2 separate regions of the Homo sapiens genome follow, and region 2 is linked to region 1. A link means that fine-mapping ties the variant in region 1 to the expression of a gene that starts in the linked region. Tissue or cell type: whole blood. Region 1 holds a variant in brackets; the other region holds the start of a gene. All regions are shown on one strand. Distances are between the middles of the regions.

Evidence for each region. PIP is the estimated chance that this variant, and not a neighbour inherited with it, causes the effect.
Region 2: it holds the start of CDCP1, and the variant in region 1 is fine-mapped to the expression of CDCP1 in whole blood (TOPMed, PIP above 0.99). The same link has a PIP of 0.9 or more in T cells and blood mononuclear cells.

Annotation. Positions count from the first base shown.
Region 1 is chr3:45,103,828-45,109,052 of GRCh38, reverse strand. All of the region lies in intron 4 of CDCP1 (CUB domain containing protein 1), which reads left to right. Among named protein-coding and RNA genes, the nearest start is that of CDCP1, 40 kb to the left of the region's middle. The variant A/G (reference allele first, on the strand shown) is at 3,087.
Region 2 is chr3:45,143,187-45,148,411 of GRCh38, reverse strand. CDCP1 (CUB domain containing protein 1) reads left to right here and starts at 2,034. Exons shown (of 9, transcript NM_022842.5): 1 at 2,034-2,206. The coding sequence starts at 2,125.

The sequences.
Region 1 (5,225 bases):
GCTTGAACCCAGAAGGCAGAGGTTGCAGTGAACCGAGATTGGGCCACTGCACTCCAGCCTGGGTGACAGAGTGAGACTCCATCTCAAAAAAAAAAAAAATATATATATATATATATGTATACATGCATATATATATATATGTATACATGCATATATATATATATGTATACATGCATATATATATATACATGCATATATATGTATACATGCATATATATATATACATGCATATATATGTATACATGCATATATATATATACATGCATATATATGTATACATGCATATATATATATACATGCATATATATGTATACATGCATATATATATGTATACATGCATATATATATGTATACATGCACATATATATATAGTGTGTGTGTGTGTGTATCCATTGAGACATTTTTATGATTCCACTGTCACAACTGTACAATCAGAATGTTGAAAACAGCCACAAAAGGATTTAGAAATGGAGTGGGCTTGGGGTTTAGAAGACAGGGGGATTTGTTTATCACCTCAGTCATGGTGGAATGCTGCTTAGAAGCTCTGATTAATTCTGCTAACTGTAACATCAGCTGGGTTGATTTCTAAAACTAATCAAATTGTTAAACGTGCTATAAACAGCATCAAGAAGGACATGGATTTAGTGCTGAGATTAAAGGGCAATAACTGCCGTTGAGAGGTGTTTAGCAGTGTCAAGCCCTCTAACTTTGCACTGTTTCTAGCGGAGTGAGTGGACTTGGCGGCAGAAATATCTTTGGGGATAAATTTAGGTTGGGCTGGACTGCCTGAGAACTCTGATCTCTGGGCAGCTTCATCTTGATCCTCTGAACCTCTATGTGGACCCTAAATTTCAAGGGCTAGCCCAAGGAAGCCAGTCCTGTGCCCCTACCTGTTTGTCTGACCCATTCTTTTTTTTTCTTTTTTTTTTAGGCAGAGTCTTGCTCTGTCACCCAGGCTGGAGTGCAGTGGCGTGATCTCGGCTCTCAGCTCACTGTAACCTCCACCTCCCAGGTTCAAGCGATTCTCCTGCCTCAGCTTCTTGAGTAGCTGGGATTACAGGCGCCTGCCACCACACCCAACTAATTTTTTGTATTTTTAGTAGAGATTGGGTTTCACTATGTTGGCCAGCCTGGTCTTGAACTCCTGGCCTCAAGTGATCCACCCGCCTCGGCCACCCAAAGTGCTGGGATTACAGGTGTGAGCCACCACTCCCAGCCCTCATTCTTTATTCTCTCTCATTTGCTAAGTGTTTGTAGGCAGCTTGTATTGCTGGCAGCATAGCCCCATTAAGGATAATGACCTGGAGTTGGCCTGCATGGATTTGAATCTGGTTCCCCCACTTACTTTGACCATGGGCAAGTCACTTCACCTCTTTGTGACCCAGTTGCTCATCTGTAAAGTGGAAGTGGTAAGACTGTCCTCATCGGGGTGTTGTGAGGACAGTGTGAGGTAGCACAGTGCCTGGCAGGTAGTGAGCGCTCTTTAAATGTTTCCTGCAGGGTTCTAGGTCAAGGCAGGCATGCAGGGTTAGAAAAGACACAACACGGGCCGGGCGCGGTGGCTCATGACTGTAATCCCAGCACTTTCAGAGGCCGAGGTGGGAAGATTATAAGGTCAGGAGTTTGAGACCAGCCTGGCCAATATGGTGAAACCCCATCTCTACTAAAAATACAAAAAATTAGCCGGGCGTGGTGGCAGGCACCTGTAGTCCCAGCTACTCAGGAGGCTGAGGCAGGAGAATCGCTTGAACCCGGGAGGTGGAGGTTGTGGTGAGCCAATATTGTGCCACTGCACTCCAGCCTGGGCAACACAGCAAGACTCCATCTCAAAAAAAAAAAGAAAGAAAGGAAAGAAAGACACAACACTTGTTCAAACAAAGAGATTAGACTGTGGCTCCAGAAATGATTGGTAGGATGCAGCAAGTCACTCATGGAAGGAATTCCAATGGCATGTGGTGAGGTTGGAGGCAGGAGAGTGGACCGCAGCTGGTAGGAATACTAAGGGGAGACTCTGGGCAGAGTCTGGCCCTTCTCAGGCTGTGCAGGAGGCCCCATCTGTGCCAATGGTGTGTGCCGCTCATGATCACTGGAAGAGCTCTATGTGCTGCTCCTGCTTTCTTAGCCTTGGAGGTGAGAAAGAAGCTGAGAGAGGGGCCTCAAGGTGACTGAGTTTTGGGTCAGAGCCTCTGCCCTTGCTTCTCCTGTGAGTGCTAGAGGAAAATCTCCTGGGGCTAGTTTCCCCCTCGACCCCTTCACTGCTGCACCTCTCTGAGTCCAACCCAGGCTTTGCCCTAACTTGACCTTCCTTTGTCCCCAGAAGCAGGGGAACAACTACCCAGACCAAAGCCACTACCCCAGGAGTGCACTTGTGGGTGGTTTGCATTCTTCACACAACATGGATTTATCTGTCTCCACGTCTGCATCTTACTAAACTCCTCCCAGTCAGGAATCTTGTCTTATTGCTCTTTCTATTCCCACCACAGCTTCCGACACATTCCAGGCCCTCCATAAATCCGTGTTGCACCAATCTCAGGAGTCAGCATCTTTTCCAAAGTGGCTCAAGAGCCAGTTGCACCATAAGAACCCACAGCCCATCTGAAGGGGCAAGGCAGATACAGTGAAGTGGGGCACCCATGAGAGCAGCTGCTTGGTGGTGGGGCAGACAAGGAGAAGGGCATCAGAAATAAGAGCAAAGGCAGAGCCTGGAGACCTTCTCAAACCAAAGTGCAACCATAGAAAGCCAGAGCCTCAGCAGGGGTGGAGAAAGCTGTGAGAGGCACCAGCCAGCCCAAACCCCTCATTATCTACAGCAGGACCTGAGCACAGTGGGCCCAGGCTACAAAAAAACAGACAGGTGTTACCTTGAACCTAATTGTCCAAAAAACAAGATAAAAATATCTACCATCAGTCCTCTCTACTTTGCTGAGAAACATCAGGTAGGTTCAAACTAGACCCAGAGAACTCCTGTAGGGAGTATTTTTCCATGGCTTGACCACAAACATCCTGTGTTTTGAGTCATGTACAATTACCCAGGAACTGAGGAATAACTGATGTGGCCATCCGTGACCACATCTGTAAGCAGTGAT[A/G]GCTTCAGCTGCCCACAGTGTGCAAACCACGGGTGTCTGAGAGCTCAGTTCATGTTCACCTCTACCACACAAATCTTGTTTTTAAGTGCTCCACAATGCACCCTCTCCTTTCTTTTTTGATATCACAAGATTACCATGTCATGCCTGATGTTATTACCACTTTCACCAGGCAGCCTGTTTCTCTCTTTGTATAATTTCTAAAGGTTCAAGTGGCCCTGCTGATAATGATTATGTGAGTTAATGGTACAGTATTCTACCCATCTATATTATATTCTACCCATCTATATATCTACCCATCTATAAGGCTTTAGGGAGAGCCTTCTAGCCTACTAGCCTACTGCTTTATGCATCCTCTTCTAGCTTTTGGAAAATCTGTTTGCTTTCCTGAAAATACCAAACAAACTATTATCTTCAAAACCCATGGGCTTCTGGGTGATCATGAGTCACATACGACAAGCAGATGTGCATTTCCAGTGTGTTACACAGGACGCTTTGTTAACCACTCTGGGTGAATGCTGGTTGTGGAAGCAGATACATTGCTCCTTTTTTGGCTTTTACAACCTCCAGAAGCCACCTGGAACCTTAAATAATTATTGGATTTGTTTTTGCTTCTTGTTTTTTGTTTTTGTTGGGTAACTTGTGTTCCATGAGTCTTAAATTTGTCCTGCTGAGCTGATAGGTATTATGGCCTTTGACTTACTCCCATTGAGTCCATTTCCAAAAAAAATTGTCTATCTATAGATACCACAAAAATGATTAGGGGCCTTTATGAAACATCAGTCAGTAACCCAATCCCTTCAAAGGTCCCCAGTGTGGCTTTTACAACAGTGTCAATAACTATTAAATAGTGAAGGGTTTTCTTTTGGTGGCAGGTGGGGGTTAAACATCAGGCTCAAATGTTTTGTTTGTTTGTTTTTTGAGACAGAGTTTTGCTCTTGTTGCCCAGGCTGGAGTGCAATGGCACGATCTTGGCTCACCGCAACCTCCGCCTCCTGGGTTCAAGCGATTCTCCTGTCTCAGCTTCTCAAGTAGCTGGGATTACAAGCCCACCATGCCCAGCTAATTTTGTATTTTCAGTAGAGACAGGGTTTCTCCATGTTGGTCAGACTGGTCTCAAACAATCGACCTCAGGTGATCTGCCCACCTCAGCCTCCCAAAGTGCCAGGATTACAGGCGTGAGCCACCACACCCAGCCTCAAATGTTTTTTATATGAAGGCATCTGCAATGTTGTAGAAAAACTATGGGATTCTTTCAAGGCAGGAAACTGTGTCCAGATCACAGATCTGCCCCTTTATTAGGGAACATTGAGCGGTTAATTTGCAACCTTCTCAGCTGTAAAATAACAATAGTCATTCCTCCTTCCCCCCATGTTGTGAGGGTGAGATAAGGCAACTTGTCAAAGCACACAGACCTCACTGAGTAAAGATCTGTCTTGTCTTTCCATAGATTTATGAATGTTAATAGGTAATTTTACATTTAAAACACCCATCTGTGAGAGATAAGGGCTGCACATTTCCACCCTGTTTTGCCTGCTGAAGCCACATATGAAAACATTCTGTAGGCAGCAGGGAAATTAACTGTGTCTACCCCTCAGGTTCCTCAGGTTATTTTGAGATCCAACCAAAAGAAGTGTGGAAAGAAATGTGTAAAATGACTAATGAATGAGGTGCAAATGCAAAATAGAAAGTGGAATGAAGTGTGATATTACAGAGAGCCTCCTCATAACGGGCAGTCTGTCTTGCCCCCAGAATCAATAAACTGGGCTTCTGTTTTAGCTGGGACATGAGGTATCTCACCACAGTCCACCTGATTATTATACAGTAATTTTCAAAAGAAATATAAACTGTAAAACCACAATAGTGTTTCACACCCACTAGAATAGCTAAAACAAGAAAGGCTGAGAACATCAAATGATGGTGAGAATGGACGGCAACAGAACTCTTATGGAGTGCTCCTGGGAGTGTCAAATGGTGTGACCACCTGGGAGAATTGTCTGGCAGATTCTTATGAAGTTAAACTTACACCTACTCTCATAGTCCATTTAGTGTTGCCATAACAGAATACCTGAGACTAGGTAATTTATAAAGAAAAGAGATTTATTTGGCTCACGATTCTGGTGACTGGAAAGTCCAAGAAGC
Region 2 (5,225 bases), 39 kb before region 1:
TTCTCTCTAGCACTAGATTATAGTTACCTACGTTGCTTTCCAGTTCAGAAATAACCTTTTAAAATTTACTCCTTCCATTCAGCCATGTTTGTAAAGACAAAACATGTCCATTCTTGGCAATGCTTTGTTCACACTCCACTTGGAGGACCAGGACAGTATGTCAGGACATCTTTACTTCAACTATGTAGTTGGGTTGTCACGCAAAGGATGCTGAAGTGCCTCCCTATTTTCTTCTTTCTCGTTGCTGCTACTTTCTGGAACCACCACCAATGCTTCATATTTGGGAATTAGTGACTCTCATTCCATTTTCAGAAAGCTGGTGTCAACTATCCCAAGAAAGACAGTTAAGCAAACTTTGGAGAGACGAAATAGTAAGGAAATAACTTGTTCCTTAGGCTTAACTTGTCAAGCAATATTTCTGATATTTTGCATTCAATACACTGCCATTCTAGTACTGTTGTGGGTATTACTGTATGTGGGAAACAATGGTGTCATGGATGTTAGGAAAAGATGCTGGGATATATATGCCTGCTTAGAATCAGGAGAAAAGACAAATCTCCTTTCACCCTCCTGGTCAGCATAAATATTTTTAAAGATTGTTTAGATTTTTGTCAAGATTTCTTTCTCTTGATGAATTTGTCCTCGATTCAGTGGGGAGAACCAAGAGCCTCTCTTCGTTTCTCATCCTCTCCCTTCCCTCTAGTTCTCAGTTTTCCCATTTTTCTGCACAAGGACAGAAGTGGACTAGAAGATTACATCTAAGGTCCCGTTTAGCTCACGATACAGGCCCTCCCAGAGGTGGGGGTGTGGGCAGGGTCATGTTCCAAGTTCTGCCTCCCTCGATGGACTGTGGGCTCCCAGAGGGCAGAGCTAGCTCTATTCTCATGATTAAGGACATCGAGAAGGAAGGGGTGACGCTCCTAGGAGATGATTTCCCACCCCTGTCCACAAGGAGGATTGGGGCAGCCTGGAGAGGCTCAGTGCCCGCAAGAATTAAGCAGAAGTTGGGACTGGACTGTAAACTGATGCTGTCGCACATGCTTTGGTTCCTGTCCCAAGCCTCCCAGGTTGCTCCGGGTGACTCTGGCCCAGCTTCTGGCTATCCATGAACACAAGTAGTCCCAGGGAGTCATTCTGGCAGAACCCAGGTCTGCTAGCTAAGAACTCCTGAACCATCCGCAATCTCTGCCTGTGGCCTGGACTTGGTGTATGGCCGGCAGGGTGGAAGGAGAACCCACAGGGCCTCTGAAGACAGGCAGGTGGCACACCTGCGGCTGGGAGGATTTGGAAAAGGAGTCCAGCGCCATTCATTTTTCATTCATTTTCCAGCCCAACGTTTGACCTGAATGCTTCACGCTCACACTGCACACACTACTCCATTTATAATACAACTCGAGAAGGGCACATACTACTCCATCCACAGCTCAGTGAAGGGATGCATACTACTCTACTCACAATTCAACGAAGTGGTGCATCTGCCTCTAATTTACTAGCTACCCTGGGGACCTTGGACACGTTGCGTGTCTGGAAATACTGCAGGTGATGTGTGTGGAGTAGGCTGCAGGCTCACCGTCCTGCAAATACTAGCTGTACCACCACCGGCTTTAAAGTCCAACAGACCTCTGGCCCAAGTCAAGTAGCAGAGGATCCAGGGCTTGGGTGGCCCACAAATAGGATTCTTCTCCAAAACGAGGCGCATAATGGCCTTTGTCTCCTCGACAGAAAAGGGAAGGTAGACTGGCTTCCTCTATGGGCGACCTTCGCGACTCTGGAGAAAAAGACCTCATCATTCTCAGACTTGGGAAGGAAGACTAAGCCCGGAAAGGTGGGGACAAGTCCGCTCCAACGCCGCAATGGGGAGTAGTAGGGACCCAGCAACCCGGTGCCGGGAGCCCTGCACCCTGGGAGGGAGAGGCGGTCGCTGAGGCAGGAAGAGGAGGAGGAGAGAGAGGAGGGACGCACCGGGTCAGCTCGCGATCCTGCTGCGCAGGGCGGGGCTCGGGCCGGTCCGCCCGCGCGCAGGTGAGTGAGCCAGGGCGGAGCGCAGCTGCGCCGGGCTTGGGCGCCTGGGGCCGCCGCTCCCCACCGTCGTTTTCCCCACCGAGGCCGAGGCGTCCCGGAGTCATGGCCGGCCTGAACTGCGGGGTCTCTATCGCACTGCTAGGGGTTCTGCTGCTGGGTGCGGCGCGCCTGCCGCGCGGGGCAGGTGAGTGCCGGGCTTTGGAGGCGGATGGCGTGGAGTGGTGAGCTAGCCAGCCAGCGGACGCCCGGCGGAGATGCGGCCGAGGGACGCAGGGTGCGGAGGGTGCGGAGGGTGCGGAGAGAGGGCGGGGACGGCGTAGTCAAAATGCGCGGGTGGCTCCGGGACCCCCGGACTGTTCGGTTCCTGCGCGCGCCGCGTCGGGCGCGTGGGCCTTGCCCTCCTGGAGTCAACCTTGCCCTCGGCACGTGAGAGTGTCCCCGATCGGGGAGCCTCCCGGTCCGGGAGGATGAGCCCGGTGCTGGCCGAGAAGGCGGGAAAAGGAGCTCCCGGTAGCCGATCCCAGGCGACATGTCCAAGGTGGCGCGCCGTGCGCCCCAGGGTCTTTGCCGGGATTCTTGAAAGCACCCAGGCAGGGTGTGGGAAGAGATCTTTCCTCTCCAGGCTCGCCCTCTACCTCCTCGCCTGGTCCAGAGAGAAGGTGCAAAAAAAGTGCTTTCACGTCCGCATTTCCCACTAGATCCCCTTTTTCCCGTCCGCACGCTGCATTCCCCCTCTCCTAAAGTTGAAGAGCGTTGGTGCAAAAATGAAAGCGCCCGGATTTCTTTTAGGGGGTCCCAGAGAAAGCCGCCAGGCATCTGCGCCACCGCAGAGACTGGACATTCCCGCGCCCCTCGCACTTTTTGGCAGTGGACTTTGAGGGCAGGAGGCTGTTGTTCCGGGGATATGTGTGAATTTCGAGTTGTTTCGGTTGGGGGAAGGGACCAACACGTCCCAGTGACCTGTGCCAGCCAGGAAATGCCCTGTGGGCCCTGGATGTATTAGAACGTAGTAAATAACCTGGTTTCTTCATGTAAGAACTTGATGTGAGGCTAGTACAGGTTTCGCGAGATTAGTACAGGTTTTGTGTTTTTTAAATAGAGCTCTCCAGGAAGCCATGTGGGTTTGATTCCCCTTGCTGCATCTAGGGTGGATTTGTGTTTGGCAGGTGTAAATTAGATAAAGGAATAAAAGGACGCAAGTGAGGTTGAATTTGGGCGTCCCGGTGACTGCCGTCTTTACAAATACAAGACAGGAGCTTCTAAAATATCAATATAAGCTCCAGGAATACTTCCTGGTTCATTCTCCAACATCAGGTGACATATTGCTGCATAGTAGATAGAAAATTTAAAACTTCATTTAAACCATGGCATGGATTTATAAATATATATATAAATTATATATATTAAAGTAGAGACAGGGTTTCACTGTGTTGCCCAGGCTGGTCTCGAGCTCCTGAGCTCAAGTGATCCTCCCACCTGGGCCTCCCAAAGTGCTGGGATTACAGATGTGAGCCACTGTGCCTGGCTGATGAATATTTACTATAATTTCTTAGGACTGAATTTCCAAGATTCCCTTTGAAGAAAAAGAATTAGTTTAAGAATAAAAAGGAAGTGAAAATATGTGTATATGTGTGCTGAGAAAAATGCGTGCCTACCAGTCTTGGAACAGTATTGAAACTCTGGGAATTATCTGAGATGTTTTTGGCTTTCTGTGACAACAGTGGGGAACTCTTCCAGTCAGAACAGGGTGTTAATCAAGGCATTGCTAATAATGAGAGCCTCTGTTCCTGGTCTCATTTCTCCCTGTGATCTGGGAAGGCTGCCATTTTGGTCCAGTAACTCCAATGGAGTCCCTTCCAGGAAGTCCTTGACTGGCTGAGCCCTGTCTCATGGTTCAATACATAAATACGTAGAAACCTAGGAACTTTCCCTTTCGCTTTCTTAAGTTCCTCCCTATGGTCTCAGGAACTGGCCCTTTGAGGGTACATCAGGCTGAACTGAGAGCTTTTGTGGTTGGAGTAGTTGCCTGTAGTCTTGAGGATCTAAGTGGCAAAGGCCTTTGAGAAATTCCTGGAGACTGTCCTGAAAGGATACAGAAAGCCAGAGCCCTGGCACAGTGGATTTGTTTTATAAATCCATGAAGTCTCTTAACAAAGAAAGACTCAGCAGAGTAAAAATGAATTTGGTGTCACTGCAGAGATGAAAAGTAAAGGAAAGTTTGTGTCTTGGTGTCGTGTGTTTGTGTGACTTTGGTATCCCCACCAACTCCCCCATTTCCAAGAGTGAAACACTGGTTACATTGGGATCATAGCCTTTTGAAAACCTCCATTTGGTTGCTTTCTAAGAACCACTCAGATACCAGAGTCTGGGTCAGTGACCCCAATCTTGCCACCATTGTCTCTTGCCAAAAATGTGAGCAGACAGATCAAATGATATATTCACACTCCCTGGGTGAGTGTGGGTGTTCATTCTGTTTCCGATTCAAATGAGGAGCTACTGGCTGTTGTCTGGAATGTGTAACTGGTAGCGCTGATGAGTCTCCCCCATCTCCTCCCCCACATCCCCACAGATTTGCATGACTTGGAGTCAGACCTGTTAGCCCTAGGGCTCACCTCAGATGCTGCCATTTCATCTATGATGGTTGCACGCCTTGCATGTGCACACACACACTCTTCTGGGTGTTCTCCCTGGCTATCAATATGGGGGAAGGAAGTTAATAATTAAGATGTTTTAAGTAGCATATAGTTATTGTAGAAAAAGTGGCAATAAATATAACCAAAATGGAAAAAAATTATCTATAAGCAAACTGCCTTATTCACTTTGATGCAGTCTTCTTAATGTGTATGTATGCACGCTCATGTGCACAAACCAAAAATGGGATCATCCCATTGTATGGCTTTAACCAGTCCCCAGTTGTTGGACATTTAAGTTGCTTCCAGTTTTTCTTATTAAAAATAGAACACGTCCAACAATAGCCAGCTGCTTGTATCAATTTTAATAGGTCTATTCAGTGAAAAGGCACTTGAAATTACATAGCACAGACTAGAAAATGACATGAAAGGATGAACCATTATCCTCATGTTGCCAAGGTTATAAAATGGTATCAACTGGATTATCCCATTTTGATGTATCTAAGAATGTGTTCTTCAGCTGTGTTGTTCTGCACACTCTTTTTTTAAATTTTTGAGACAGAGTTTCACTCT